Linked DNA regions of Homo sapiens: region 1 is linked to region 2. Evidence: fine-mapped expression QTL. A gene starts in region 2. The other region holds a variant in brackets. All regions are shown on one strand. Distances are between the middles of the regions.

What was found.
Region 1: its variant is fine-mapped to the expression of LINC02561 in blood mononuclear cells (TOPMed, PIP 0.98).

Annotation. Positions count from the first base shown.
Region 1 is chr10:5,236,555-5,252,817 of GRCh38, reverse strand. No RefSeq gene overlaps it. Among named protein-coding and RNA genes, the nearest start is that of LINC02561, 27 kb to the left of the region's middle. The variant A/G (reference allele first, on the strand shown) is at 7,589.
Region 2 is chr10:5,261,392-5,277,654 of GRCh38, reverse strand. LINC02561 (long intergenic non-protein coding RNA 2561) reads left to right here and starts at 6,419. Exons shown (of 2, transcript NR_149060.1): 1 at 6,419-6,457; 2 at 10,970-11,666. It also overlaps the pseudogene AKR1C7P. RefSeq lists an enhancer at 4,917-6,116.

The DNA.
Region 1 (16,263 bases), 25 kb after region 2:
GGAGTTCACACATGGCCGCTTGTGGACAGGTGCAGGGTGGCAGCCCTGAGGAGGTTCAGAGATGACCAGGGACATCTTGAGGTAGCAGCATCAGTCATGAACCAGGATATAAAAATCCATGCTGCTTATTTAAACAGGATGTGTCATCAGATGGTGGGAGTATCTGGAAGCCAGTAGGGAACAATGAAGCAACCCAGAGGCTTTTAAACACAGGAAGTCGCTACCCTCCTAGGCTAGAGAAGCAGAGGAGGCAGTGCTGGAGGCAGATCCCGGGGTCCCTGGAAGAAGCAGCAGCCATGGAGGGCCTGAGGGAGGCAGCCAGGATGACTGGAGGGATGGAAGCTGTTGCTGTGTCCCCCAGAGAAGGGAAGAAAAGGCACCTGGACTCTGGCTTCCCTTTCTGCTCTCAGCAGCACCTCACAGTGGCCAAGCCCACCTGGAAGGCTGCGGGCAGAGAAGGCAGTACCCTGGGCTGAAGAGGCTGCCCTCCTGGGCTACAGCAGAGCAGGAGAGGGAGGAGGAGGGGCACTGAGCAGACAGGAGTGTCAGTCAGGATGACCCTGGCCCTGCATCCTCTGGGAGGTTATCAATGAAATCCGCCACCTTAAGTAGTTCAGGCTGATGGGACGAGAATGCTGGGTTATGTAATTGTCACGGTGTTCACTGAGGCAGATAACTAGAACAAATATAAACTTATTTGTTCCTGAGATTTGTTCCTTAAATCTCATTAAGGCTTCTTAAGCATTCACAAGATTGAAGCCACCTTTGCCAGAGGTTAGGATTAATAGGTGGGGTTAGATATCCTACCTGAAATTCAGTTCCAGAAATATTTACTGAGTATTTTTTACGTGGAAATCAGTGTTCCTAGTGTTAGAAATGCAAAATGTTTCTTCTTTTGTGCCACAAGGAAAAATCAGCATTCAGACAAAAAGTTCTCTCAGTGAGGCAATTTTTACTTTCTGCAGAAAGGGTACCCCTTGCAGATGGAACAATGGTGAGGACACACATAGAATAAAGAGACATCAGGGTATCTATTCCTTACGCATGAGGTCCCTATTGCTGTGTCCGTCCTGTCTCCGCTGGCTGGAGCCAGACCTCACAATCTAAATTAAAACCCGATTGGCTAATTTTAAGCTTTTTTAAATAGGTAGAAAAGTAATATTCCCAAATAAGAAAGGGGCATAGGCTGTGAGCTGGGGCATGCCTATGAGCACGTCCAACACAAATATCTTGGTTAAGGTACAAGGACATAGGATGTACAACTTGCCTGTGAGCATGTCTAACAGCTGTATAGCCTAGGGCTTAACAAAGTTATTAGCATAAAGCAAGGAGGCTTGAAGGAAGTTAGTCTTTAAAAGAAACTATCATTTCTAACATTTATGATTTATTCTTTCACAAGGAAAACTTTGAAGAGGAAACTTTACACTATTTTTTTTTTTTTTTTTATTATACTCTAAGTTTTAGGGTACATGTGCACATTGTGCAGGTTAGTTACATATGTATACATGTGCCATGCTGGTGCGCTGCACCCACTAATGTGTCATCTAGCATTAGGTATATCTCCCAATGCTATCCCTCCCCCCTCCCCCGACCCCACCACAGTCCCCAGAGTGTGATATTCCCCTTCCTGTGTCCATGTGATCTCATTGTTCAATTCCCACCTATGAGTGAGAATATGCGGTGTTTGGTTTTTTGTTCTTGCAATAGTTTACTGAGAATGATGGTTTCCAATTTCATCCATGTCCCTACAAAGGATATGAACTCATCATTTTTTATGGCTGCATAGTATTCCATGGTGTATATGTGCCACATTTTCTTAATCCAGTCTATCATTGTTGGACATTTGGGTTGGTTCCAAGTCTTTGCTATTGTGAATAGTGCCGCAATAAACATACGTGTGCATGTGTCTTTATAGCAGCATGATTTATACTCATTTGGGTATATACCCAGTAATGGGATGGCTGGGTCAAATGGTATTTCTAGTTCTAGATCCCTGAGGAATCGCCACACTGACTTCCACAATGGTTGAACTAGTTTACAGTCCCACCAACAGTGTAAAAGTGTTCCTATTTCTCCGCATCCTCTCCAGCACCTGTTGTTTCCTGACTTTTTAATGATTGCCATTCTAACTGGTGTGAGATGATATCTCATAGTGGTTTTGATTTGCATTTCTCTGATGGCCAGTGATGATGAGCATTTCTTCATGTGTTTTTTGGCTGCATAAATGTCTTCTTTTGAGAAGTGTCTGTTCATGTCCTTTGCCCACTTTTTGATGGGGTTGTTTGTTTTTTTCTTGTAAATTTGTTTGAGTTCATTGTAGATTCTGGATATTAGCCCTTTGTCAGATGAGTAGGTTGCGAAAATTTTCTCCCATGTTGTAGGTTGCCTGTTCACTCTGATGGTAGTTTCTTTTGCTGTGCAGAAGCTCTTTAGTTTAATTAGATCCCATTTGTCAATTTTGTCTTTTGTTGCCATTGCTTTTGGTGTTTTGGACATGAAGTCCTTGCCCACGCCTATGTCCTGAATGGTAATGCCTAGGTTTTCTTCTAGGGTTTTTATGGTTTTAGGTTTAACGTTTAAATCTTTAATCCATCTTGAATTGATTTTTGTATAAGGTGTAAGGAAGGGATCCAGTTTCAGCTTTCTACATATGGCTAGCCAGTTTTCCCAGCACCATTTATTAAATAGGGAATCCTTTCCCCATTGCTTGTTTTTCTCAGGTTTGTCAAAGATCAGATAGTTGTAGATATGTGGCATTATTTCTGAGGGCTCTGTTCTGTTCCATTGATCTATATCTCTGTTTTGGTACCAGTACCATGCTGTTTTGGTTACTGTAGCCTTGTAGTATAGTTTGAAGTCAGGTAGTGTGATGCCTCCAGCTTTGTTCTTTTGGCTTAGGATTGACTTGGCAATGCGGGCTCTTTTTTGGTTCCATATGAACTTTAAAGTAGTTTTTTCCAATTCTGTGAAGAAAGTCATTGGTAGCTTGATGGGGATGGCATTGAATCTGTAAATGACCTTGGGCAGTATGGCCATTTTCACCATATTGATTCTTCCTACCCATGAGCATGGAATGTTCTTCCATTTGTTTATGTCCTCTTTTATTTCCTTGAGCAGTGGTTTGTAGTTCTCCTTGAAGAGGTCCTTCACATCCCTTGTAAGTTGGATTCCTAGGTATTTTATTCTCTTTGAAGCAATTGTGAATGGGAGTTCACCCATGATTTGGCTCTCTGTTTGTCTGTTGTTGGTGTATAAGAATGCTTGTGATTTTTGTACATTGATTTTGTATCCTGAGACTTTGCTGAAGTTGCTTATCAGCTTAAGGAGATTTTGGGCTGAGACAATGGGGTTTTCTAGATAAACAATCATGTCGTCTGCAAACAGGGACAATTTGACTTCCTCTTTTCCTAATTGAATACCCTTTATTTCCTTCTCCTGCCTGATTGCCCTGGCCAGAACTTCCAACACTATGTTGAATAGGAGTGGTGAGAGAGGGCATCCCTGTCTTGTGCCAGTTTTCAAAGGGAATGCTTCCAGTTTTTGCCCATTCAGTATGATATTGACTGTGGGTTTGTCATAGATAGCTCTTATTATTTTGAAATATGTCCCATCAATACCTAATTTATTGAGAGTTTTTAGCATGAAGGGTTGTTGAATTTTGTCAAAGGCTTTTTCTGCATCTATTGAGATAATCATGTGGTTTTTGTCTTTGGCTCTGTTTATATGCTGGATTACATTTATTGATTTGTGTATATTGAACCAGCCTTGCATCCCAGGGATGAAGCCCACTTGATCATGGTGGATAAGCTTTTTGATGTGCTGCTGGATTTGGTTTGCCAGTATTTTATTGAGGATTTTTGCATCAATGTTCATCAAGGATATTGGTCTAAAATTCTCTTTTTTGGTTGTGTCTCTGCCCGGCTTTGGTATCAGAATGATGCTGGCCTCATAAAATGAGTTAGGGAGGATTCCCTCTTTTTCTATTGATTGGAATAGTTTCAGAAGGAATGGTACCAGTTCCTCCTTGTACCTCTGGTAGAATTCGGCTGTGAATCCATCTGGTCCTGGACTCTTTTTGGTTGGTAAACTATTGATTATTGCCACAATTTCAGAGCCTGTTATTGGTCTATTCAGAGATTCAACTTCTTCCTGGTTTAGTCTTGGGAGAGTGTATGTGTCGAGGAATGTATCCATTTCTTCTAGATTTTCTAGTTTATTTGTGTAGAGGTGTTTGTAGTATTCTCTGATGGTAGTTTGTATTTCTGTGGGATCGGTGGTGATATCCCCTTTATCATTTTTTATTGTGTCTATTTGATTCTTCTCTCTTTTTTTCTTTATTAGTCTTGCTAGCGGTCTATCAATTTTGTTGATCCTTTCAAAAAACCAGCTCCTGGATTCATTGAGTTTTTGAAGGGTTTTTTGTGTCTCTATTTCCTTCAGTTCTGCTCTGATTTTAGTTATTTCTTGCCTTCTGCTAGCTTTTGAATGTGTTTGCTCTTGCTTTTCTAGTTCTTTTAATTGTGATGTTAGGGTGTCAATTTTGGATCTTTCCTGCTTTCTCTTGTAGGCATTTAGTGCTATAAATTTCCCTCTACACACTGCTTTGAATGCGTCCCAGAGATTCTGGTATGTGGTGTCTTTGTTCTCATTGGTTTCAAAGAACATCTTTATTTCTGCCTTCATTTCGTTATGTACCCAGTAGTCATTCAGGAGCAGGTTGTTCAGTTTCCATGTAGTTGAGCAGTTTTGAGTGAGATTCTTAATCCTGAGTTCTAGTTTGATTGCACTGTGGTCTGAGAGATAGTTTGTTATAATTTCTGTTCTTTTACATTTGCTGAGGAGAGCTTTACTTCCAACTATGTGGTCAATTTTGGAATAGGTGTGGTGTGGTGCTGAAAAAAATGTATATTCTGTTGATTTGGGGTGGAGAGTTCTGTAGATGTCTATTAGGTCCACTTGGTGCAGAGCTGAGTTCAATTCCTGGGTATCCTTGTTGACTTTCTGTCTTGTTGAGCTGTCTAATGTTGACAGTGGGGTGTTAAAGTCTCCCATTATTAATGTGTGGGAGTCTAAGTCTCTTTGTAGGTCACTGAGGACTTGCTTTATGAATCTGGGTGCTCCTGTATTGGGTGCATAAATATTTAGGATAGTTAGCTCCTCTTGTTGAATTGATCCCTTTACCAATATGTAATGGCCTTCTTTGTCTCTTTTGATCTTTGTTGGTTTAAAGTCTGTTTTATCAGAGACTAGGATTGCAACCCCTGCCTTTTTTTGTTTTCCATTGGCTTGGTAGATCTTCCTCCATCCTTTTATTTTGAGCCTATGTGTGTCTCTGCACGTGAGATGGGTTTCCTGAATACAGCACACTGATGGGTCTTGACTCTTTATCCAATTTGCCAGTCTGTGTCTTTTAATTGCAGAATTTAGTCCATTTATATTTAAAGTTAATATTGTTATGTGTGAATTTGATCCTGTCATTATGATGTTAGCTGGTGATTTTGCTCATTAGTTGATGCAGTTTCTTCCTAGTCTCGATGGTCTTTACATTTTGGCATGATTTTGCAGCGGCTGGTACCGGTTGTTCCTTTCCATGTTTAGCGCTTCCTTCAGGAGCTCTTTTAGGGCAGGCCTGGTGGTGACAAAATCTCTCAGCATTTGCTTGTCTATAAAGTATTTTATTTCTCCTTCACTTATGAAGCTTAGTTTGGCTGGATATGAAATTCTGGGTTGAAAATTCTTTTCCTTAAGAATGTTGAATATTGGCCCCCACTCTCTTCTGGCTTGTAGGGTTTCTGCCGAGAGATCTGCTGTTAGTCTGATGGGCTTTCCTTTGAGGGTAACCCGACCTTTCTCTCTGGCTGCCCTTAACATTTTTTCCTTCATTTCAACTTTGGTGAATCTGACAATTATGTGTCTTGGAGTTGCTCTTCTCGAGGAGTATCTTTGTGGCATTCTCTGTATTTCCTGAATCTGAACGTTGGCCTGCCTTGCTAGATTGGGGAAGTTCTCCTGGATAATATCCTGCAGAGTGTTTTCCAACTTGGTTCCATTCTCCACATCACTTTCAGGTACACCAATCAGACGTAGATTTGGTCTTTTCACATAGTCCCATATTTCTTGGAGGCTTTGCTCATTTCTTTTTATTCTTTTTTCTCTAAACTTCCCTTCTCGCTTCATTTCATTCATTTCATCTTCCATTGCTGATACCCTTTCTTCCAGTTGATCGCATCGGCTCCTGAGGCTTCTGCATTCTTCACGTAGTTCTCGAGCCTTGGTTTTCAGCTCCATCAGCTCCTTTAAGCACTTCTCTGTATTGGTTATTCTAGTTATACATTCTTCTAAATTTTTTTCAAAGTTTTCAACTTCTTTGCCTTTGGTTTGAATGTCCTCCCGTAGCTCAGAGTAATTTGATCGTCTGAAGCCTTCTTCTCTCAGCTCGTCAAAATCATTCTCCATCCAGCTTTGTTCTGTTGCTGGTGAGGAACTGCGTTCCTTTGGAGGAGGAGAGGCGCTCTGCGTTTTAGAGTTTCCAGTTTTTCTGTTCTGTTTTTTCCCCATCTTTGTGGTTTTATCTACTTTTGGTCTTTGATGATGGTGATGTACAGATGGGTTTTCGGTGTAGATGTCCTTTCTGGTTGTTAGTTTTCCTTCTAACAGACAGGACCCTCAGCTGCAGGTCTGTTGGAATACCCTGCCGTGTGAGGTGTCAGTGTGCCCCTGCTGGGGGGTGCCTCCCAGTTAGGCTGCTCGGGGGTCAGGGGTCAGGGACCCACTTGAGGATGCAGTCTGCCCGTTCTCAGATCTCCAGCTGCGTGCTGGGAGAACCACTGCTCTCTTCAAAGCTGTCAGACAGGGACACTTAAGTCTGCAGAGGTTACTGCTGTCTTTTTGTTTGTCTGTGCCCTACCCCCAGAGGTGGAGCCTACAGAGGCAGGCAGGCCTCCTTGAGCTGTGGTGGGCTCCACCCAGTTCGAGCTTCCAGGCTGCTTTGTTTACCTAAGCAAGCCTGGGCAATGGCGGGCGCCCCTCCCCCAGCCTCGTTGCCGCCTTGCAGTTTGATCTCAGACTGCTGTGCTAGCAATCAGCGAGATTCCGTGGGCGTAGGACCCTCTGAGCCAGGTGTGGGATATAGTCTCGTGGTGCGCCGTTTCTTAAGCCGGTCTGAAAAGCGCAATATTCGGGTGGGAGTGACCCGATTTTCCAGGTGCGTCTGTCACCCCTTTCTTTGACTCGGAAAGGGAACTCCCTGACCCCTTGCGCTTCCCAGGTGAGGCAATGCCTCGCCCTGCTTCGGCTCGCGCACGGTGCGCACACACACTGGCCTGCGCCCACTGTCTGGCACTCCCTAGTGAGATGAACCCGGTACCTCAGATGGAAATGCAGAAATCACCCGTCTTCTGCGTCGCTCACGCTGGGAGCTGTAGACCGGAGCTGTTCCTATTCGGCCATCTTGGCTCCTCCTCACTTTACACTATTTTTTTAAGTCAGGCATATAAGAATAAGAGTTCCATATTCACTTTGTGAGGCTATATTTTCACATGTTCGCTTGGGCTGGGACTAAAACAACAGCCTTCCTTGAAACTAGGAT[A/G]TGGGAGTGATGGTAATAGGGCAATTGCATCATGATGAAAGAATACCTGAGACTGGGTAATTAATAAAGAAAAGGGGTTCAATTGGCTCATGGTCTGCAGTCTGGACATGAAGCATGGTGCTGGCATCTGCTTCTGGGGAGGGCCACAGGGAGCTTACAGTGACAGCGGAAGGTAAGGGGGGAGCCTGTGTCTCACACCACAAGAGTGGGAACAAGAGAGTGAGGGGGCAGGTGCCACACTTTACACAGCCAGGTGCCCATGAACTCAAAGCGAGAACTAATCACATGGGGGTGGTGCTGAACCATTCATGAGTGATCCAGTCCATGATCCAATCACGTCCCACCAGGCCCTGCCTCCAGCACTGGGGATTACATTTCTGCATAGGATTTGGAGTGCACAAATATCCAAATCATATCAGTAATTATTGCTGAATTTTGAAGCCCCTGGTCCCAGGGATAAACACCTTCCCAAACTGTGGCCTGGAAGACCAAGGGAGAATTTCCTGTCTCTGGGGCATGGATTACACCAGGGAAAAACATCAGGTGTTTGAGTGCCAATGGCTCTACCATTTGTAGGTTGTAACACATGATCAGAAGAATGCAACAGATCAAATATCCAGCTTTGCTAAGGTTGCAGAGTTTGGTCTGAGCTAGGAGTGCGCATTCTTCACCAAGGTCTTCCTCAGAATCTATGCCATGGGACCTGTGCTTGCTGAAGGGGGGATAAGCCACAGTTGAAGACACTCCAACTTCAGAGAACACAGCTCCCTTTAATACTGAAAAGCTTGCTGCCATCAGCACCCCAAGTTTTCTCCTTTCCTAGCCTTGGGTGTTCTACGTGTGTGAACTGTAGGAAAAGAGGAGACACCCAGCATGTAAGAGAGCAGTAGGGAGTACTCAGAACCCACTAAAGACAGCAGATCCTCCTGCTCTCAGCCCCAGGGCACCCCTACCCACCATCCCCCAGACCAAATGAACTCTGCTGTGCAGCTCCTCCTGCCTAAAATTGTCTCCATTCCTGTTTTTCATGCCGCAGGAAGTTAGACAAATGCTGAGGTTATCAGAACAGTAACAACAACAATACTTACTGCTGTGTGCCAGCGCCTTTATTGAAGTGTAATTTATATATCATGAAACTCACCAATTTTTAACATACAGTTCTATGAGTTTTAGCAAATGTCTAGAGTTCTGCAATCATCCCTGTGTTAAGGCTCAGAAAATCATACTACAAAGTGGAAAATGATACCCCAAGGTAGGGAGCTTTGACAGGCTGAACTGAGACAGCAGGCTCAGGGTCTCCCCCACCATACCCCTCCCCTCCTCCCACCTTTCCTCCCTTTGTCTCCCAAGAAGTGCAAGATTAGGCTCTTTTCTGAAGTTTCTTTACCTAGAAACTGGACTCACAAAGAGGAACACAATTGCTTTCAATCTCTCCCTGAAATTTCATTAACCAAAGAGGATTAGAACTTATGTAACAGAGGAAGAGACTGAAAATTAAACACCAACATTTACAGCCTAAACCAACTTTGTCCCAAATTGTTATTTGTTCTGTGCTCCCAACATCCAAAGTAAATAGACTACAGGATGATCTTTGCCTCCCAGGTCCATTCATCTCTCCTGAAAATCATTGACTCCCATACCGCCTATTTCCTCACCTCCCCTTCTCCCATGAAGTGAGGTATATAAGCACCTGGACCTCACCTGGGTTATTAGGTCATGATTCTTCTGCAATTCTTCCATTCTATACACATAAAAATAAACTTATATGCCTTTTCGCTCCTCATAATTTTTTTTTTGTTCATTCATTTTCAGTGAAATTTCAAAGGATAAAGAGGTAAGATTTCCCTTTTTGGCCCTATAACCACAATCTCATTTTGAAACACTTTCATCACCCCAAAAAAATTCTCTGTGCCCATCTGCAGGCAATCTCTCCTCCCAACACCAGCTCTAAGTAACCTGTAACCTACTTTCTGTCTATAAAGCTTCACCTCTTCCAGAAATTTTATAAAAATCAAGTCAAACAATAATTTTTTAAATATTTGACTTTTACTTGATTAAAATATTTGTGGTTAATTTTTGTTCTTGCCTGTACCAATAGTTTGCTCCTTCTTATTGAGAAGTATTTGTTCCATTGTATGGATGTACCGCGTTCTGTTTCTCTATTCACCAGTGAACGGAATTTAGATTGTTTCTAGTTTTTGGCTATTATGAATAGTATTGGTACAATGAACATTTGTGTAGGAGTCTGTGAATCTACATTTTTCTTTTGGGTGGTTGTCTAGGAATGGAACTTCTGGGATCTAGAATAAGTGTATGTTTAACTTGTTAAACTGCCTCACTGTTTTTCAATGTGGCTGCACCATCTTACATTTTTCATTAGCCATGTTTGACTCTCCTGCCCAGAGACAGCCACCTCATCCTGTTTCTCCACCTTTGTTTGCTTTGTTTTGCTGACTGTGCCCACTGGTGTTTCTAGGTCATGAGCCTCCTCAGTGCCCAGTCCAGGATATACAGGAGGCAAAAAGATCCAGAGGACTTACTGCCCAGTCATCTCTTCAGTCCTGGGGTCTAGGTCCCTAGACAGTCTGCCTTCTTTTCTCAACATTTCAGAGACTTTTACTGTTTTTAGGTGTAACGGGTAGGGGAGCACATTTAAGTGCGACACTACATTTCTGGAACCAGAAGCAGGTGTCATGGTTAAGAGCATGCGCAAGTCTAAATCACACTGCCAAGTCTCATCTCCTGTCTCTGGCTTACTTCTCCCACGTCCCGGGAGAAGTCCAGCAGAGGCATTGGCTCCAAATCGAATCTCCTGAGACTCACTCCCCTTCCCCCCGCAACAATATGACCGTGTCCTTGTCAAGTTCTCCTTTAGGAAAGTACTTGAGTCACGCCAAGAATAGTACCTGTCTGAGCAGAGGTTCCCTAGAGCACCATGTCACCCCCTCTCTCTCATCATTTTGTTCTTAGCTTCAGTCTCATCTTCTCAGTGAGGTCTTCATCCCTGTGTCACTCTATTCAGCGTAGCTTCCCAGTCCCCATTATCTGTCTCCTTCTCAACCCTCTGTTTCAGTTTCTTAAGAATTGTCATTGTTAGTAATTATTTGATTTATTCACTTATTTCATGGTGTGTTTTCATAATTATTTTGATTCTTCCAACTCTAACTACCACACCGAGAAAAACTCCCTAGTATTAAACACATCTTTGTTAATCGAAATAGGAACGATTACGACCAACACATTTTTGCCAATGAGAAATAAGTTTGTTCCTATAACATAAAAATCCATGCTTCAGCATTCTATGAACTCTCAGAAAGCATTTTCTGTATCAAGCTGGTTGTGGAAGCATTTTCCCTGCAAAAAGTTGTCAGATGCTTCAAAAAGTGGTAGGTGGTTGGTGAGAGGTCAGGTGAATATGGCGAATGAGTCAAAACTTTGTAGCACAATTCCTTCCATTTTTGAAGTGTTGGTTGTGCAACGTGCAACTGGGCGTTGTGGAGAAAAACTGGGCCATTTATGTTGACCAGTGACTGCTATAGGCATTGCAGTTTTCAGTGCATCTCATATATCTGCTGAGCATACTTCTCAGATGTGATTTTGCTGGGATTCAGAAAGCAGTAGTGGATCAGACCAGCAGCAGATCACCAAACAGTGACCATGACCTTTTTTGGTACAAATTTGGCTTTGGGAAGTGCTTTGGGGCTTCTTGGTCCAACCATTGAGCTGATCCTCATCAGTTGTCTTATAAAACTCACTTTTTGTTGCATGTTACAATCAAATCATGCAATGGTTCATTGTTGTTGCATAGGATAAGAGAAAATGAAACTTCATGGTTCTTTTGATTTTTTGCTCAGCTCATGAGGTACCACTTATTTCACCTTTCCAATTTGCTTCAAATGCTAAACGTCTGTAGAATGATCGATGTTGAGTTCTTTGGCAACTTCTTGTAAGAGGATCAGCTTTGATTGCTTTCAATTTGTAGTTGTCAACTTTCGATGGCCGGCCACTACATCATCTTCAAGGCTCTTGTCTTTGTAAAACTTCTTGAACGACCACTGCACTGTATATTAGTCAGCAGTTCCTGGGCTAAGTGTGTTTTTGTTGTTGTGTGTTTCTGCTGCTTTACAAATCATTTTGAACTCGAATAAGAAAATCACTCGAATTTGCTTTTTGTCTAATGTAATTTCCAGTCTAAAATAAACATAAAATAAACAGCAAGTAATAAGTCACTAGCAAAATAAAGTGAGAAATGCCCATTAAAATGATACATAATATAATCACATTTATTTAAGAATGTATTCTAGTATCAAACAGCAAATTCCAACAATGCAAAAACCACAATTTTTTTTATTCTTTAAGTTCTGGGATATGTGTGCAGAATGTGCAGGTTTGTTACATAGGTATACACATGCCATGGTGGTTTGCTGCACCCATCAATCCATCTACGTTACGTATTTCTCGTAATGCTATCCCTTCCCCATCCCCCCACCCCACAACAGGCCCCCGGTGTGTGATGTTCCCCACCCTGTGTCCAAGTGTTCTCATTGTTCAATTCCCACCTATGAGTGAGAACATGTGGTGTTTGGTTTTTCTGTCCTTGCAATGGTTTGCTCAGAATGATGGTTTCCAGCTTCATCCATGTCCCTACAAAGGACATGAACTCATGCTTTTTTATGGCTGCATAGTATTCCATGATGTATATGTGCCACATTTTCTTTATCCAGTCTATCACTGATGGACATTTGGGTTGGTTCCAAGTCTTTGCTATTGTGAATAGTGCCACAATAAACATATGTGTGCATGTGTTGTCTTAGTAGAATGATTTATAATCCTTCAGGTATATACCCAGTAATGGGATTGCTAGGTCAAATGGTATTTCTGGTTCTAGATCCTTGTTGAATTGTCACACTGTCTTCCACAATGGTTGAACTAATACACTCTCACCAACAGTGTAAAAGAATTCTTATTTTTCCACATTCTCTCCAGCATCTGTTGTTTCCTGACTTTAATGATTGCCATTCTAACTGGCATGAGATGGTATCTCATTGTGGTTTTGATTTGCGTTTCTCTAATGAGTAATGTTGAGCTTTTTTCGTGTTTGACTGCATAAATGTAGTCTTTTGAGAAATGTCTGTTCATATCCTTTGCCCACTTTTTGATTTTTTTTTTTTTGTCTGTAAATTTAAGTTCCTTGTAGATTCTGGGTATTAGCCCTTTGTCAGATGGATAGATTACAAACATTTTCTCCCAGGGTTGCCTGTTCACTCTGATAGTTTCTCTGGCTGTGCAGAAGCTCTTTAGTTTAATTGGATCTTATTTGTCAATTTTGGCTTTTGTTGCCATCGCTTTTGGTGTTTTAGTCATGAAGTGTTTGCCCATGCCTATCTCCTGAATGGTATTGCCTAGGTTTTCTTCTAGAGTTTTACTGGTTTTGGGTCTTACGTTTAAGTCTTTAATCCATCTTGAGTTAATTTTTGTATAAGGTGTAAGGAAGGGGTCCGGTTTGTTGTCTGCATATAGCCAGTTTTCCCAACACCATTTATTAAATAGGGATTCCTTTCAGCATTGCTTGTTCTTGTCAGGTTTGTCAAAGATCAGATGGTTGTAGATGTGTGGTGTTATTTCTGAGGGCTCTGTTCTTGTTCTTTTAGTCTATATATGTTTTGATACCAGTACCATGCTGTTTTGGTTACTGTAGCCTTGCATAGTTTGAAGTCAGGTAGCATGATGCCTCCAGCTTTGTTCTTTTTGCTTAGGATTGTCTTGGCTGTACAGGCTCTTTTTAGGTTCCATATGAAATTTACAGTAGTTTTTTCTAATTCTGCAAAGAAAGTCATTGGTAGCTTGATGGGGATAGCACTGAATCTATAAATTACTTTGGGCAGTATGGACATGTTCATGATATTAATTCTTCCTATCCATGAGCATGGAATGTTTTCCCATTTGTTTGTGTCCTCTCATTTCCTTGAGCAGTGGTTTGTAATTCTCCTTGAAGAGGTCCTTCACATCCCTCTTAAATGTATTCCTATGTATTTTATTCCCTTTGTAGCAATTGTGAATGGGAGTTCACTCATGATTTGGCTCTGCCTTTATTGGTGTATAAGAATGCTTGTGATTTTTGCACATTGATTTTGTGTCCTGAGACTTTGCTAAAGTTGTTTCATCAGCTTAAGGAGATTTTGGGCTGAGACAATGGGCTTTTTAAAATATGCAATCGTGTCAGTTGCAAACAGATAATTTGACTTCCTCTCTTCCTGTTTGAATATCCTTTATTGCTTTCCCTTGCCTGATTGCCCTGGCCAGAACTTCCAATACTATGTTGAATAGGAGTGGTGAGAGAGGGGATCCTTGTCTTGTGCCAGTTTTCAAAAGGAATGCTTCCAGCTTTTGCCCATTCAGTGTGATATTGGCTGTGGGTTTGTCATAAATAGCTCTTATTGAGATGTTCCATCAATACCTAGTTTATTGAGAGTTTTTAGCGTGAAGCGCTATTGCATTTTATCGAAGGCCTTTTCTGCATCTATTGAGATAATAATGTGGTTTTTGTCATTGGTTGTTTATTTGATGGATTATGTTTATTGATTTGCATGTGTTAAACCAGTCTTGTATTCCAGGGATGAAGCCGACTTGATTGTGGTGGATACGCTTTTTGATGTGCTGCTGAAATTGGTTTGCCAGTGTGTTATTGACGATTTTTGCATCGATGTTCATCAGGGATATTGGCCTGAATTTTTTGTCATGTCTCTGCCAGGTTTTGGTATCAGGATGATGCTGGCATCGTAAAATGAGTTAGGGAGGAGTCCCTCTTTCTCCACTGCTCAGAATAGTTTCAGAAGGAATGGTACCAGCTCCTCTTTGTTCCTCTGGTAGAATTTGGCTGTGAATCTGTCTTGTCCTGGTCTTTTTTTTGGTTGGTAGGCTATTACTGCCTCAGTTTCAGAACTTATTATCGGTCTCTTCATGGGTTCAACTTCTTTCTTGTTTGGTCTTGGGAGGGTATATGTGTCCAGAAATTTATCCATTTCTTCTAGATTTTCTAGTTTGCATAGAGGTGTTTATAGTATTCTCTGATAGTAGTTTATATTTCTGTGGGATCAATGGTGATATCTCCTTTATCATTTTTTATTGTATCTATTTGATTCTTTATTAGTCTGGCTAGTTGTATATTTGTTGATCTTTTCAAAAAACCAGCTCCTGGATTCATTGTTTTTTGTTTGTTTTTGTTTTTTCTGTGTGTGTGTGTGTGTGTGTGTTTGTTTTTTTTTTTTTTGGCGGGGTTGGGGGTGTGTGTGGTTTTTATGTCTCTGTCTCCTTCAGTTCTGTTCTGATCTTATTTCTTGTCTTCTGCTAGCTTTTAAATTTGTTTCTTCTTCTCTAATTCTTTGAATTGTGATGTTAGGGTGTCAATTTTAGATCTTTCCTGCTTTCTTCTGTGGTCATTTAGTGCTATAAATTTGCCTCTAAAGATTGCTTTAGCTGTGTCCCAGAGATTCTGGTACATTGTGTCTTCGTTCTCATTGGTTTCAAAGAACTTATTTATTTCTGCCCTAATTTCGTTATTTACCCAGTAGTCATTCAGGAGCAGGTTGTTTAGTTTCCATGTAGTTGTGTGGCTTTGAGGGAGTTTCCTAATCCTGAGTTCTAATTTGATTGCACTGTGGTCTGAGAGACTGTTATGATTTCCATTCCTGTACATTTGCTGAGGAGTCTTTTATTTCCAATTATGTGGTCAATTTTAGAATAAGTATGATGTGGTACTAAGAAGAATGTATATTCTGTTGATTTGGGGTAGAGAGTTCTGTAGATGTCTATTAGGTCTGCTTGGTCCAGAGCTGAGTTCAAAGTCCTGAATATCCTTGTTAATTTTCTCTCTTGTTGATCTGTTTAATATTGACAGTGGGGTGTTAAAGTCTCCCACTATTATTGTGTGTGAGTCTAAGTCTCTTTGAAGGTCTCTAAGAACTTCTTTTATGAATCTGGGTGCTCCTGTATTGGGTGCATATATATTTAGGATAGTTAGTTCTTGTTGCATTGATCCCTTTACCACTATGTAATACCCTTATTTGTCTCTTTTTTGATTTTTATTGGTTTAAAGTCTCTTTTATCAGAGGCTATGATGGCAACCCCTGCTTTTTTTTTTTCTTTCCATTCGCTTGGTAAATATTCTTCCGTCTCTTTTATTTTGAGCCTATATATGTCTTTGCACTTGAGATGGGTCTCCTGATTACAGCACACTGATATGTCTGACTCTTTATCCAATTTGCCAGTCTCTGTCTTTCAATTGGGGCATTTAGCCTGTTTACATTTAGGGTTAATATTGTTATGTGTGAATTTGATCCTGTCATTATGATGCTAGCCCATTATTTTCCCCATTAGTTGATGCAGTTTCTTCATACTATTGGTGGTCTTTACAATCTGGTATGTTTTTGCAGTGGCTTGTACTGGTTTTTCCTTTCCATATTTAGTGCTTCCTTCAGGAGCTTTTGTAAGGTAGGCCTGGCAGTGACAAAATCTCTCAGCATTTGCTTCTCTGTAAACAATTTTATTTCTCCTTCACTTATGAAGTTTAGTTTGGCTGGATATGAAATTCTGGGTTGAAAACTCTTTAAGAATGTTGAATATTGGCCCCCACTCTCTTCTGGCTTGTAGGGTTTCTGCAGAGAGATCAGCTGTTA
Region 2 (16,263 bases):
TGTCTGCTGTAGTACTTTATGTAAAGAAGTCATATATATTCTTTGGTGTAGCTTCTTTTGCTCAACCTGTCTGTGACATTCATTCCTGTAGTTGCAGGTGTCTGTTCTTTCCATTTTACTGCTGGGAAATATTCCATTATATGGACATGTACACCACAAGTTGTTTATCCATTCACCTATTGATGGGCAGTTTAGTTGTTTCCAGTTTGCCACAATTGCGAATAAATCTCTATGAATATTTATGAGACACCTTGAAACATACTATATTGTGTCTTCTCTCATTGTCTGGGGCTTTGGGCAAAAGGGTAGCACACTCTAGATTTTTCATCTATACTCTTCATATCTGTTGTTTTTCTCCAGGATGGACCCAGATAGCCCATATCTCTTAGAGGAGCCAACCTTGAAATCCATTGCCAAGAAATACAATAGAAGCCCAGGCCAGGTTGCCCTGTGCTATGAGCTGCAGCGGGGGGGTGGTGGTCCTGGCCAAGAGCTTCTCTGAGAAGAGAATCAAAGAGAACTTCCAGGTACAGGTCAAGTGGTGTTGCTCCAAAGTGAGCCATGGGCGCTGGTCTGGGTGATCTCTCTTCCAGGGGGGAATGCACCATATGTCATTCATGCCCGTGCTTCTCTCCTCTGTGTGCTAAGGGAGGGGGCAGGATGGAAAAGTGCGAAGAGATCACTGGATTCACAGTCCTAAAGTTTATCACCTCTAGGGCTGGCTTTGCCACTCACTAGTTGTGTGACACTAAGCAAATTTCAACTCCATCATTTTCATGAGTTTCAGGAGTTCTACATGGTAAGGAACTTTAAGGACCTTCATTTCTCTCCTTCACCATCTCTATCTGACAAACCTCTATTTGTATTTTATGATCAAACTCAAATAGGATTACCTGCTTTGTTACATATCATACATACATAACCATTGGGACACTCTAGCACATTTTTCACCACAATAGTGCCTGGCATGGTTCTGTTAGTGAGTCTTTTCCCTTTTAACTTAACATTGTTTGCTAAGATGTCAGTGTGCTCTCTGGACTGTGAGACCCTAAATGCTGTGACTCCTTCTGGGTCATCTTTTATCACCTTTCCCCTGGCAGTGCCCCGGGCTGGTAGGAAGCTAGGTATAATTTCATAGACTGACCAAATTATTAATAGTAAATCAATGAGTAAAGATTTTGCCTGAAGCCTTCCTCATATACACTCCAATCCATTAGATCAATCAGTGGTCTTTAATTTACTTTGTTTTGAATTCTAAAAGAATTTTGAAAGACTATGTATGCTGTTTTCCATTTAAAGATGGCAGCTAGAAAAATCAACATGAGTTTAGTTATTACAAAGGATGATATTTGAAGCATATTTTCTAATGTATTTGTTTCACAACTTTGTAGCTCTAGATTAAAATTTTTAAGTTATACAAAAATCAAATAGGCAAATCTAAACCTTGTTACCATACAGAAAAAAATCTTATTTTATTTTATTTTTCAATTTAACTCAACATATTAATACATATCCCTGTGACAACCATGTCATTTCTGGAGTATATTTTTAAGATGAATCACTGATGGGTAAATGTATGGGTGGATAGGTAGATAATGGACAGATATAGGTAGAGAGAGAGAGAGAAACACATTAGATAGATATGTATATCATAGATGGACGGAGAGATAGATAGATAGGGCTCTGAGTTTTCCATCTTCTGCATGAAATAATGAACTTAATTTTTTTAAACCACATATCTTTTTCTTTGCTTTAAGGGATTCTTCATCAGGGGACTATGTGTCAATGTGTTTTCAAATAAAAACAACTCTTGGCTTAAGTAAGATAAATATATTCAAAAAAGGTTTTTTTTGTTGTTTGTTTTTTTTGTTTTGTTTTGTTTTGTAAGGAAGTAGTATTTGGTAGTACTTAGTAGTAGCTGGAAATAGTATTTGGGGGCCTGCAGTGAGCAAGTGGTATGGTGGAACAATTGATCAAGAAATGCTTTTCTAAGGCCAAAACATTCTTGGAGCAAGGTTGTCTTGTGTTCCAAGGCTTGCACAGTCAAAGACTGGGTCAAGTTCCAGGGGAAGTGAGTAAGGAAAATCCTGACCAAGTGTGATCAAGTCAAGGAAGCAGGTATTTTGTCCAGATTTGCCTTTGTTTAGTATAAAGAATTTATTTTTTCTGTCTCAAGCAATTCTCTAGAAATGTCTTAGATTGATAAGTTGTCTTTCTTTTGAGAAGTGGAGCAGAGCAGGAGGGAGGTGGGATGGAAAAGTAGCAGAACTCAGGGGGAAGAGGTCTCACCTAGAGGCCAATGAGGACAGAAACTTTACATACTGCCATCCTTGCCTCTGCCCCCGGAAAGCCTTGTATTCCCAGGAAGAAGCTGCTGTCCTGGGGAAAGGTTAATGTGAGTGTTTTCTTCCTTTCAGGTTTTTGACTTTGAGTTGACTCCAGAGGACATGAAAGCCACTGATGGCCTCAACAGAAATTTCCGATATGCTAAGTTACAATTGTAAGTCATGCTTGCAGATTCTTTCACAGGCTGTTTTCTGTAATATGCAGGCAAACAGAGGAATACATCTTCCCTAAATCAGGAAGGCAGGCCAGATTTCAGGAATAGGTATGAAACAGGAGCTTCCCTATAGTCCTCATGTGGCTCAATCTGTGACCCAACAGGAATGTGAGTCAGTAAGTGAAACTGTTGACATCTGCACCATTGTGAATGCACTTCTTCAATTTTTTTTTTTTTTTTTCTGAGACAAAGTCTTGCTCTATTGCCTAGGCTGGAGTGCAGTGACACGATCTCGGCTCACCGCAACCTCTGCCTCCCGGGTTCAAGCAATTCTCCTGCCTCAGCCTCCTGAGCAGCTGGGATTATAGGCGTTTGCCACCACGCCCAGCTAATTTTTGTATTTTTAGTAGAGACAGGGTTTCACCATGTTGGCCAGTCTGGTCTCGAACTCCTGACCTCGTGATCTGCCCACCTCGGCCTCCCAAAGTGCTGGAATTACAGGCATGAGCCACTGTGCCCCGCCATGAATGCACTTCTTTAGTGCCCTTACTACCTGTGCCCGGTCCTGCACGCAGGGCCACTGCCTATTAGAATAGAAGGCACGGTGTCTATGACCCATCATACTTATAGGAGCCCATGATAATGTTCTAGCTTTAATTTATTTTAAAGTCAGAAGAAAAAGAGAATACAACAATGATGAATATGTAATAATGAATCCAGCCTCGTCTATCTTCATGTCTATACCAAGGCAATGTAAGACTTAATTTTAATATTTGTATAGAGCATTGGTCCATGAAAGCAAATGTGCATATGTCCTAGGGAAGTCACAGTGGGCCCTGCTTCCATGGCCTCCCCTAAGTGTCCAGTGACATTTCTCCTTACTGTGGCATTCCTTTTCCGAGACACCAACTATTTCTTCCAAATTTTTGTCTTCCTTGGCTTTCTTTACCTTCACAACTCCCATTTCCTCAGCTATATAATCTCACTAAGCTGAATGACAAATGAATTATGAAATTAATAGACCCTCAGTGCTAGTGACTGAGGTGTCCCCAGTGGCCTCCACCAAGTTAAGATCCTCTGGAATTTCTCCGGATCTTCGAGGCAAGACTCTTACTCCAGTGTCATCTTCGTCCATCTGAAGCCCACCTCTAAGGAACCCAACATAACTTCACTTTAGTTTATTCACAAACATGACGTTCCATTGGATCAACTGTGGCAGGATCTCAGGGTTGAGGAGAAAGATGACTAATCAAACAGAGCCAAGTTTGGAGGGGAGTTTAGAAACAGGGCGAAATATCATTTTAGTTAGGAAAATACTCAGTCTCCAAAACACATCTGAAAGGTCCCCCTTCTTTTTGTAAAACCATACCAGGCTTCCAAGAAAAGACATTTTCAATGAGAAAAATGTGAAAGCAACCTTTCTATACTCACAGGCCTTAAGTATAATCTGTGATCTGCCTCATGAGACTGTGAATGTCTCCTCTTACTCATCTCTGTGGCCCTATGTTAATACAGCTCCTGGTGCATTTAACTGCTTAGAAAGTACTCTTTAATGACACTCAATTAAAAAGAACGAATTATAAAAAAGAAAGCCCTTTTTGCCATTAAGGTAACATATTTTCAGGTTCCAGAGATAAGGGCATGTATGTCTTTGGGGGCCATTACTGAGCCTACTACACTAGTTTTGTAAGTAAATTTAGAGCAACTAAACTTTAGTTTTCTAATTTTTGTAATAGAAAGAATTCTATGTCCAGCCACTGGATCCTGAAACTCTAGACTTTTATCTCAGATATCAAGAGGAAAACCACATGAATAAATACCTGTTTCTTTAAAGCTGATGTAATCTTGACCCTATTGTATTTCCTCCTTCTGGATACATGCCCTTCATTATTTTATTCTAAAATTTATTCTCAGGATCTGTTGACATTGTCTTTTGTTGTTCATATGGAAAACTCAAGCTTTTCAGTTTGCCAACATTCTCAACTCTTCAGAATTTCTACTGATGTCTAGATTATACTTCAGGCAATGGATCCCATGTTTACTACTTAAACGTGCTTCATCTATGAAACCTTCAGTTGGACACATCTTATATTAATGAAGTCTCTTAACTCTGCAGTTTCTACTATACCTTGATTTATCAAGTTCTTGATTCATCAAGAGTTGTCATTAGGTCTCTCTTCTTTCCTCTTTGCATTCTTTCAATACCCATAGAAGTTTACGTATGAAAATTAGGCTAAATAATATACTAAATTGAAATTGATCAGACTCCACTTATTCTACACAAGTAAGTTTGGAAACATCTAATTTAAAGAAAAGCACTTTCTCACTATGGTTTCAGCAGTCAAGATGATTGCCTTTCCAACATCAGTTTTACTTTAAATAATTTGTTTAGGTCAGCCATGCTAATTTCATTGTGGTTGGCATAGGAGTCACTGTGGATAAAGAGTTGTGACCCAGCCTTAGCCAACGCCACATAAGAAGCACTGTGCTGGGTACTTCTAGGAGAGTTTCTCTCACTTCTAAGAAGGAGCCTTTGAAGAGAGGTTGCTTCTCTTCTTCAAGGGGATATTGTCCCATTGCAAGGTGAGGTGTGAAATTGCTGTGGAGTCTCCACCCAGCCTGAGGACGACATCAATACACAGAAGAAGAAAAAGGAGAAGATGAGAGAAATTCTGCACTCTCATGGATGACACCCAGAGTTTACCCTCCCTCTGGACTTCTTGTTATGGGACTAACACATTTTTGTGGATTTTAAACCAATTTGAATTACTTTTTTTGCACCTGCCTGTACTCTAATCCAAACAACCATCCAAGTTAATAATTTTCTCTTTACAATGCACCCTGCATTTTGTACCTATACAAGAGTGGTCAGAATGTGTGAAAACTGCTGAGTCATCCTGACAGCATGGCTCCAGTAGATTCTAGGGGTCGGCTATAGTATTGAGTGATATTAAAATAACAAATAATGCACAAAAGGCATGGATCTAAAAAAGTCTTTAGGAATCTTCACTCACTGAGAGCTCATATTCAGGACACAGTTTCTTCTTCAAATCACCTTGGACAAGTAAGTAACCCTTTTTGTTCCCTTTTCTGTAAAATAAGTTACAAGTTAAATCTACTTTGTAGGGTATTTGAGAGGATTCCCTGATAGTCTTGCCTGATACAGAATAGAAACTCAAAATCTTAGCTAGTAGCGTTGGTGTCATTGCTATTATCAGCACTATAATTTCCCTTGAGTTAGCCAGAAGAAATACTAAGTTTATTGGACAGTGAGTACAGGGTTGCCTTGCTCAGATGTACTGAGCCTACTGTCAACTTTAAGCCGCTCTCTGTGAGGTTAGAGTTTATCTTGGTCTGGGAGGACCAAGCAGAGTGCTTTAGAGATGACAAGCACAGCTGTGTTAAGAGACAACTTCCAAAGTTTGTGACCACATAGGATAAGTTACTCTAACTTTCAGTGCAGTTGAGCAAGAGTCCTTGATTGGTTTCTGTTGTGAATGCCAATATTTTTGTGTCATTTTGTGGGATCTTCCAGACACTGTCTGAGAGAAAATCTCCATAGCCTGGAGAGGAAGAAAAATGTCTGGATGGTGGGGTTTTGTCTCCTAGCACAGTTACCACCCAATGACCATCCTTCTTTACTTTTACAGGCCATTATGTTAAGCCTTTTTCATTTGTTGCTCTCCCATATCCCTATTTAGACTTTGATATCTGAAGGTGGAAACCATCCCTTTTCCCTCTGGAGCTGGAGTGATGTTCACGGAAGGCAAAGCAGCTGGGCCTGAATGGGGCTAAGCTCTGGGAGCCATGAGTGTCTCCACAGAAACAGAGCAGGACACCCGGAGGGACCACCCAAAACCTTGGGTCCGTTTGTGAGGCCATCAGATCCTCAGCTGGCATTTGACAAGGAGGATCAAGGTTGCAACAGCCTAAAGAAGTTTAATTTCAAGAAAACAGGTAACTTTTCTTTCTTCTTACTCATCTGAATTTGTGGATTGAAAATTATTTGCACCATATAGAGGAGTTTTCTAACTATCAAAGCACCAACAGTGGAGTTATTTGCTGCAGGACATGTTGAAATGATTCTCATTGAAGACAACTGGATGAATTCCCAGTGATGTTTGAAATGCAGGTTTGCCAGAGGAAAAGTCTGTTGAATTCTGTTTTTGAGAACCAGACATTTTCTTATAGATTAGGATAAACTCCTTGCATAATAAAGGTGTTTATCCATGGACTTCACATTTTATTCCTGTTGCTGTCTGATACTTTCCCCAATTACTTGGTTTAATTTGGCCTTCAAGCTCCCCTCCAACCCTGAGAGGCTGTTAGTGTGAACCCAGAAAGATTTATTCTGTCCCATGTTTTTATTTCTCCTGGAGCACAGTAGCACGAAAGAGGAGTGGATAGTATCCCCAAAATACAGAAGGGAGGAAACGGATGTGGAGAGAGAGGGAAGTAACCAGGGTACTTTGTCCACCTTCACATGATCCTAGGGATTATCCTGTGTCACAGGCACTTCAGAGTTGTTTTATTTTGGTGGTGTCTAAAAGATTTTAGTCTTAAAACACACATCCAGCCTGGGCCACAGACGTTGTCTCTACAAATAATAAAATAATTAGTCGGGCGAGGTGGCATGCGCCTGTGGTTCCAGCTAATAGGGAGGCTGAGGTGGAAGGATCACCTGAATCCAGGTGGCTGAGACTACGTAAGCTATGATGGCACCACTGCACTCCAGCCTGGACGACTCCTTCTCATAAAACCAAACCAATCCACACACACACACAGAGAAGAGAAACAGAGTTTACTTTTGAATATCGTTGAGAGAATATACTGAATTGCCTGGCGTGATGCGAATGAAGCAACATAGTTCTGTTCCTATAACAAGGACATTGGAAACAAAATTTTCACCAGTTGTAGCATTTCCAATTAGTCTAGTTGGGAGTCACCAGGATTAGATCAAAGTATAAATCCAAAGACTGTCAGAAAATATTCTGAATTCAGGAGAGAAGGGAAATCATGATAGAACAGGAAGTCTGATCTGTGTACAATCAGAAGATATCATAATCCAAATTTTACATCAAGTTAGGGGTACATGCAGGGTTTAACTCTGGAGAAACTTCACACAGAAGTCTGAAGACACCAAGAAGTGTCTTGGCAGCTGAGTAAAGGCAGCTTGGGATGAAGTTGAGAGTGCTGGGCATCTGCCAGGAAATTTCATGGTATTCAGCTTCATCAGAAATATGACTTGCAACTAAATATTTTTATCCCATTCTATAGGTTGCTTTCTGATGCTTAGTAGTCTCTTTTGATGCAAAAATGTTTTAATTTATGAAGTCTCATTCATCTATGTTTTCCTCTGTTGACTGTGCTTTTGGTGTCACTTGCATTTGATTTTCAGCAATTTCAGCCCTGTGGCTGTAAGACATAGGATTCTCACTCAGCGCACACCTAGAAGCTCTTAGGTCATGTGTGCTTAATCCAGGATTTTGAATTCCTGAGCTCACCCTTTTTTTTCTTCCTCTTTCCAGCAATATGAGGTGCAACTAACCAACATCATTCTATTCTTAGTTTTCCACAAATGTTTGAAAGTATCACATACAGAGTCACTATTTTTTTTGCCTCTTTTAAGTTGTTAAGTAGAGTATCAATGCAGATGTTTTGTGCACTCTATAAATACTTCATATCATGGACTATCAGTGCTCTCTTCATTATTGGAAATAAAGTCCTTCGCATTTTCAAGTCTAATCTGATTAGACTGACAATGCCAGAAACCCCAAAACCAATTCAGGAAACTCAAAATTCTATTCCTCTAGAACTGCTCCAGATACCAAAATCTATATTAGTCAGGGTTGTCCCAAGAAACAAAACATATAGTGTGTGTGTGTGTGTGTGTGTGTGTGTGTGTGTGTAAATGAAAGAGGAAATCTCACATGAAAGACTCAATCAATGCAGCAAACTTTATTTTATTTTATTTTATTTTAAATAAATGACCACAGCCACCTCACCCGTTAGTAACCACCACCCTGGTCAGTCAGGAGGCATCGACATCATATCTAAAACCTCCACTATCAACAAGATTATGACCTGCTGAAGGTTCAGATGACTATTGGCATTTCTCAGAAATAAAATATTTTTAACAAATGCATGCATATTTTTTTCTTTAGCTGTAATGCTATTGCACACTAAATATATGACAGTATAGTGTAAACATAACTTTATATGTACTGGGAAATCTAAATATTTGTGTGACTCATTTTATTGTCATATTTGCTGCATTGCAGTAGTCTAGAATTGAACTTGCAATATCTCTGAGATATGCTTGTATATAATATGTTGTCTATATCTTATCACAGTTTTTGACTAAATTTTATTTTTCCTGGTCCTAGTATAGCCACCACAGCTCTTTTTTGTCACTGTTTTTATAGAATATCTGTTTCTGTCTTTCACTTTCATACTAGTCACATCTATAGATGCAAACTGAGTTTCTAGTGCTGAGTATATAGTTGGATCTTGTTTCTTTTAATCCATTTTGCAAATTGATCTGCCTTTTGGTGTGGGGGTTTAATCCATTTACATTTAAAGTATATTCATGTGCTGCATAACAACATTTTGGTCAATGATTGACCATATATACAACAGTGGATTTATAAGATTACAAAACCTATTACTGCTCCTTTTATATGTTTATGTACACAAATACCATTGTGTTACAATTGCCTTATAGTATTCAGTAGAGGAACATGCTGCACTCTACTGTTTATAGCCTACAGGCAATGGTCTAGACCAGAAAGCCTATAGTAGAATATACCATTTAGATTCATGTAAGTTCACTCTATGGTGTTCACATGATGCTTGAATTGCCTAAAAATGCATTTCTCAGAATGTATTCTTATCATTAAATGACAGATAACTATAATTAGTGACAGCAACTTAATTTTGCATTTTAATATTTTTCTTTTCCTGTATGTCTATAGCATTTTGTTCTTCATATCCTCCATTACTAACATTTTTTTGTGTGTGTCACTGATTGATTTTTAGGGACACTTGGATTTCCCTCTCATTTTCACTTGTGTATATTCTATAATTGTTTTCTTTGTGGTTACCATGAAAATGACATAAAACATCCTAGAGTTATAAAATCTCCTTTGAAATCAATACACATTTAATTCTGTACATAAATTCCCCTTTTCCACATCTGTGTTTCTCTCAACTTCACATTACTGATGTCACTAATTACAACCTCATACATTGTGTACATGTTAACATAGATTTATAGTTATTTGTACACATTTGAATTTTAAATTTTTTTTTTTTTTTGAGACAGAGTCTTGCTCTGTTGCCCAGGCTGGTGTGCAGTGGCACAATCTTGGCTCACTACAAGCTCCGCCTCCCAGGCTCATGCCCTTCTCCTGCCTCAGCCTCCCAAGTAGCTGGGACTACAGGCGCCTACCACCATGCCTGGCTAATTTTTTATACTTTTTAGTAGAGATGGGGTTTCACCATGTTAGCCAGGACGGTCTTGATCTCCTGACCTCATGATACACCTGCCTTGGCCTCCCAAAGTGCTGGAATTACAGGCATGAGCCACTGCACTCAGCCAAATTTTAAAACTTGAACAGAAAGCTAGTATAAACAAAACTTTCAAAAATACATGTTTTTGTATTTTGTCCCATATTTACCTTGATGAGAGGTCTTTATACTTGATACGACTTTACATAACCATCTAATCTAACATTCTTTTATTTCATAGTGAATTACTCCCTTAAGCATTTCGTGTAGAGTAGTTCTAGTGGCAATGAGCTCTGTCAGCTTTTGTTTATATCACATTGTCTTTATAACTTCCCAATTTCTGAAGGTCATTTTTGTCAGATACAGAATTCTTGGTTGGCAAGTTTTCTTTTTTCTTTTACCAATTAAAAAATATATATAATCTCATATGCCCTCCAAGGTGTCTGATAAGAAATCTCCTGATAACTTCATCCAGAATTCCTTGTACCTCATGAGTTATGTTTCTCTTGCGGCTTTTCAAATGATCTCCTTGTCTTTGGCTTTTGAGAGTTTGATTATAATGTATGTGGGTCTGGGTCTTTTTCAGTGTATTCTCTCTGCAGATCTTCAAGTTTCTTGTATTTGTAGATTCATGTCTTTCATCATATTTGAACCATTCTTTTTCATCTTTTTCTTTCCAACTTTTATTTTAAGTTCAGGGGTATATGTGCAGGTTTGTTTCATGAGTAAATTTCATGTCATGGCAGGAGATGTACAAATTATTTAGTCACCCAGGTAATAAGCATACCTATATAACAAACCTGCACATGTATCCCTGAACATAAAAGTTAAAAAAATAATTTTTTAAAAGTCCTAAAAACTCCAAACATACACATTTGTATAGGAAAATCATGTAGGTGGATACACATTAAGTATTTTTCAATGGGAATATTACAGCTTATTTTTGTTCTCTTGTTACAGGCTGAAAGAATGAGAGTTGTGACCAACTCAGTATACCACTGGAGGCTATATGAGCAAACAGAAAACTGTTCTTATGAAAGCAGGATGTTGGAAAACTGATAACTGTGTCTGCCGCCAGAAGGGGTGCTGAGGGCAGTCAGGCCTCATGCACAGTGTTCCTTGTGATTATCTATAGGAACATCTGAAGCCTGTTGTACAAAGAAAGCAATTATGTGGACCTGTGATAAATCAAGCAGTGGACCAACCATTAGCTCTCCCTCCCTGCTCTTTCTACCTAACAAATATGAAAGACTGTAGAAACTCAGGGCTGCCTTTGCTCTCTAGAAGCAAGGAGCCCCTGACCCCCTCTTTCAAAATAGGTCTTTTCGTCTTTGTCTTTACTTCTGCATTCGACCCCCTTCATTGACCCTGTAGAAACTGTCAGTGACATTCTCTTTTCCCTTGTATTTTCTAAATTTTCTATAATTTGCATGTTATTTTAATAATTAGTGAGGGCATCAAAGAAGTGGATTTACAATGGTGCAAACATTGGCAGTTTCAGTTAGGAACTCATATTCCTGTTGGGTCAGAGATTGAGCCCTGGAGGAAACCTCTGGTCTGAGGGCTACAGGGAAGCTCCTGTTTCATGCCTATTCCTGAAATTAGGCCTGTCCCTCTGATTTAGGGAAGATTTATTCCTCTGTTTGTCTGCATACTACAGAAACAGCCTGTGAAAGAATCTGCAGGCATCACTTACAATTGTAACTTAGCATATTGGAAATTTCTGTTGAGGACATCAATGGCTTTCATGTCCTCTGGAGTCTACTCAACAATTTTTCTTCAAAGTCTAAAGGAGATTTTTTCTTCCAGCATAATATTCCGTGCAGTGCAGAAAGTCTTTTCTTTTGCCTTTTGGTAAATGGCCTAAGAGATTTTACAGTTTATTGAGAGAATTCCTATGCCATTATCATTAAGTTTTGGTTTGCTTAGAATGTAAAAAAAACTGAGATTAGAACAAATTTTTAAAAAAGTAAGGTTATTACATCTGTATATCTTTCTGTATGTGCTTTTAAAGTCCTTGTGACATTGAGTTACAGGGCTTTGACTCCTGGATCTATAAAGGACACCAAGTCCTGCTACATCTTAAACACTGACAACAATTAAAGCCTCATCTTCAGGCGCAGTAGAAGATGCCAATCAAAATAAATTGCATTCCTGAGACATAGGGCCAGAAATAAAAGCTATTCAACTCCTCAAGGCCCCAGGACTATTGTGGAAGAGGTGGGTGTGTGAGATTGAAAGGGCCAATTTTGAGAGACAAAATAAGTTCAATTTCTCTGTAAATTAATCATTAATGTCAAAGGCACACTGATGCAAGACAAGAATATGGCCCCCTGTGACAGATTAACAAGGTTTTAGTGAAGCATTAACTGACTCCTTAATAAAGGTTATAAAGGTTATAAAAGGCTTAAGAAAGTTATATCCTATTGTCAAGATTAAAAGTTCATAAATTGTTAATAAAATTTTGAAAAACAGATTTAATTGGTATCACACTGTTTTTATTAGGGCTTATAGTTTGGAAAATTAAGTCTTCTCTCTCAAAGAAAAAAGGTTTTTGCCTTTTTTTGGAATCCTTGTGTTATCACTTTGGTTAAATGAATGACTTATTTTACAATGACCTGTAATATCAAGTGTTTTAAACCATTGATATTTGACAAACTTTCCAAATCAAATTATAAATTATTTCTTTTTCAGACCTAATTAATCCTTTAAGATATTAGGTTCCCTAAAATCTAAAAATGAAATTTGGCTCACTTGGTGTAAAAATTATACAGGAAGTATTGTCAAACATGAAATGGTGTTTGGTTATCTTTGGGCTGTATTTGTATAAATATGTAATTGGCATGTGTTCCAAAATTATGGGAAACTCATATAACTCTGATATAACTTAGTATACATTATCAGTAATAATCATTGTCATGTTAAATTATGGTGTGCCACAGAGGTAACAAATTTCCCTGTCAATTGTGTTTTTGACTATGGCTGCTCTAAAACTTTTTGTCATCCACAGACAATTGTTTCTTGTTTTGCTCCTCTTTAGAAGGTGGTTTATAGAACTATAATACTCTAACAGGTGCTCTTGAATGCAGGTTTCTGATAACTTTGAAGACTGTGACATCAGAATAGAGGAAAAACTTTGAAAACTCATGGAGAGCTGAAATGTTCATGAATATCAAGCAGAGCAGGAATTAGCTGCATGAACTGAACTAATAGAAGACTGAAGTAATCTTTTTGACTTTTTGCTTAAAACATTGCTGATCCTTTGTTCTGTATTTTTCAGAGTCAAGGAAGCTTTTCTTTTGAGCTATTGGCAGCTTTTAACAATTTAGTATACTCCCGTGAACAAAATTTGGAGCTTATTTCTTTCTCTCTACCTGATTTCTCCAGAATTTGGAAACTATTTATTAGTATTCTTAACTTATGGCAATACAGTTATTTGCATAAGTGCAATAAGAATATGTTTTTATTTGAAACAGGACACAATTGGAGAAACTGGTTATTTTACCAAGGCTTTGACTGGCACGCTGTGCTTTCTTTCAGGAATCAAACTTGACTTATGGAGACAATAAAAGCCCCTTGGGAAAACTGGCCTCATACTTTGTCTACGCAGTGCCTGTACAGGGTTCCTGATCTGTGGTAAGTAAAAAATGTAACTTTCTGACAGGTCCAGGAGCCCCAAGTTTATCTTGGGATCTCAAGAGGAGAGAAATTCACCCACGCATAGGTGTTTGATGGTACAAATCCATGGCTGGGTTTCACTTCAAAAAAATATTATCTGAGATTCCTTCTGTGGAACAAAGTTCCATCAAAGCCAATTTAAAAGCCTATGTAAAAAAATAATTATTCTTGCTGTACTGTATACAAATAATCAGGCCAAGTATAATAAAGCAAATCAGTCCTACCATGATTTGTCTTTAGTAAAAATGGGAAATTGGAGAGAGAAAAAATTATGTTTCAAAAACTATAGTACACCTGTTGTTAGGTTCTAGTCTTGCTTAATGTTTTTAAATTTTTATTATTTTCTACAGTTTGGTCCGAATTCTAATTTTTCTTGGCTAAAATTCTGGGCATGACTGTTGAAAACAGGAGTGTGCAACTAAAGGAAAGCCAAGAAGCAGGGTGGGGGCAGGAGATGGAGGATCACTAGGACAAAGTGCCCAGGGTAAGGGGCATTCTGACTCAACCAACCTAACAGGATTCCTGTAGAAGGCAGCTCAGGGTGGCCACAAATTCCTTGGGGATGGTGAGGGACAAAGAACCTGGCCAGATATTGAAGCTGAGGGTGATTGATAGACATCAAGGGTGGGGGATTCTGGCTGAATTGAGGTAACAGGATTCTTGCTAAAACTGGGGTCTTGGGACACACCCCAAAATGGGGCCTCACTGAAAAAGGAGCCCAGAGGAGCCTGACTAGGGTTTGGGCAAGAAGAGAGTCCTTGTCACCAGAGAATGTTGTCTAAACACCATCCCATGAAGAAAAGGACAGCGGCCCAGCATTCTCTCTGCTTCCTGGCCCAAGTCCTCATCTTACTTGCGTTGACCTGATGATCTCCATGCTGTCCTCACACCCAGAGCAGAGGTGACAAGACTGTGTGGCCTTGTTTCTCCTTCAGCACAGCTGAGATGAACTAAAATCCACCGAAGGAACTTGAAGTTAGCACAAGTACAGGGACTAAGAATCCTAGAAAAGAAAAAACAGGTTTACTGAAACTCTAATGCAAGGTTGAAACCCTGGCAACAGGTCAAAATAGCACACATTTTTGTGTTTGTTGGTTTTGTAGGGACGGAGGGAAACCATCCCCTTTGCCTCTGAAAAAGTATTACTGGAAAATTAACTGGCAAAAGGCAGATTAATAAGAGAACAGGCATACAAAGGTATTAGTGTGCAAAGGACAGAATCAGGGTGATTAACCCAACCCCTCCCTCACCTGGGTTCAGAAGTTTATGTAGTATCTTGAGGTTACCAAAAGAATGGAGTGGAGAGCATGGCACAAAACATGCTATGGTGGGCAAATAAGTTATGAGAGGGAGAGAAGAGGAAGCCTGCCTAGCAAAGGTGGTCTTGTTGTGTAGCTGAAACCTCATAGGGAGCAGCCCTCAGAGAGAAGACGTGAAGGTTTCAGGTCTTTAAAGGTATCAGACTCTCAGTTAATCATCCCTAGCTCTAAGGGAGGGCCTCTGAGGAAGCCAGGCTGCATCGAGGCAGATTCTATCCAGATGCAACTCTCCCATGCCAAAGCCAGCTTTCCAGGGCTGTTTCTGTTGGCAGTCCCTCTGAAAAGCCACCTCAAAATATGTCAAAGAAAGACCCATATTAGGCTGAAATACTTTGGTTTCCTTCAGCTTTTTATTGGTTTTGTTTAAAAATAAAGACCCTACGGCCAGGCATGGTGGCTCATGCCTGTAATCCCAGCACTTTGGGAGGCCGAGGCGGGTGGATCACTTGGTCAGGAGATCGAGACCATCCTGGCTAACATGGTGAAACCCCGTCTCTACTAAAAAACACAAAAAATTAGCCGACCGTGGTGGCGGGCGCCTGTCGTCCCAGCTACTTGAGAGGCTGAGGCAGGAGAATGGCCTGAACCCGGGAGGCGGAGCTTGCAGTGAGCCGAGATCCTGCCACTGCACTGCAGCCTGGGTGACAGAGCACGACTCTGTCTCAAAAAAAAAGCCTACCTCTGGCTTCCTCATTCAGCGTCTCCCAGGGTGAGGCCCAGGCATTTGCATTTCTTGAAAGCTCCCCAGGGGAGCTGCCGGGGTAAGAACCCTCCTCTTCCAGATGGACATTCATTCCTTTGGGCAACAATCTTCATGCACCACGTACTGTGCATCCTAATCCAAATGCCTGTGATACACCAGGGACACCAGGGGGCAGCTGCCCCACGGAGCTTGTGTTGTTCCTCTGTCCCCTTTTCTCCCTGTGTCTGCACTGTATGGTTTCAGGGAGCCTTTTCTGATATGGATGCCACTTCCAGATTTCTCCATTGTGCTTGCTGTGGTGTGAAAGCTAGGACTATTTTTCTGTTCTTAATGTTTCCTGTGGTCTTTTTACCTGCCTGGCCCAAATTCCTTTCAAACCCTGGTTGGTCATCTGGTTCTGTTTCTGACTCTCAGATTTAGGAACCCAAGCATTGGTCATTCTCATCACCACCACGACACCCACACACCAGTGTCAGTTTCCTAAAGTCATCAATTGTTGGTCAGGGGAACGTTTGCAAAGCAGAAGATTGTGAAGAACCCTGTCCTGAATCCTC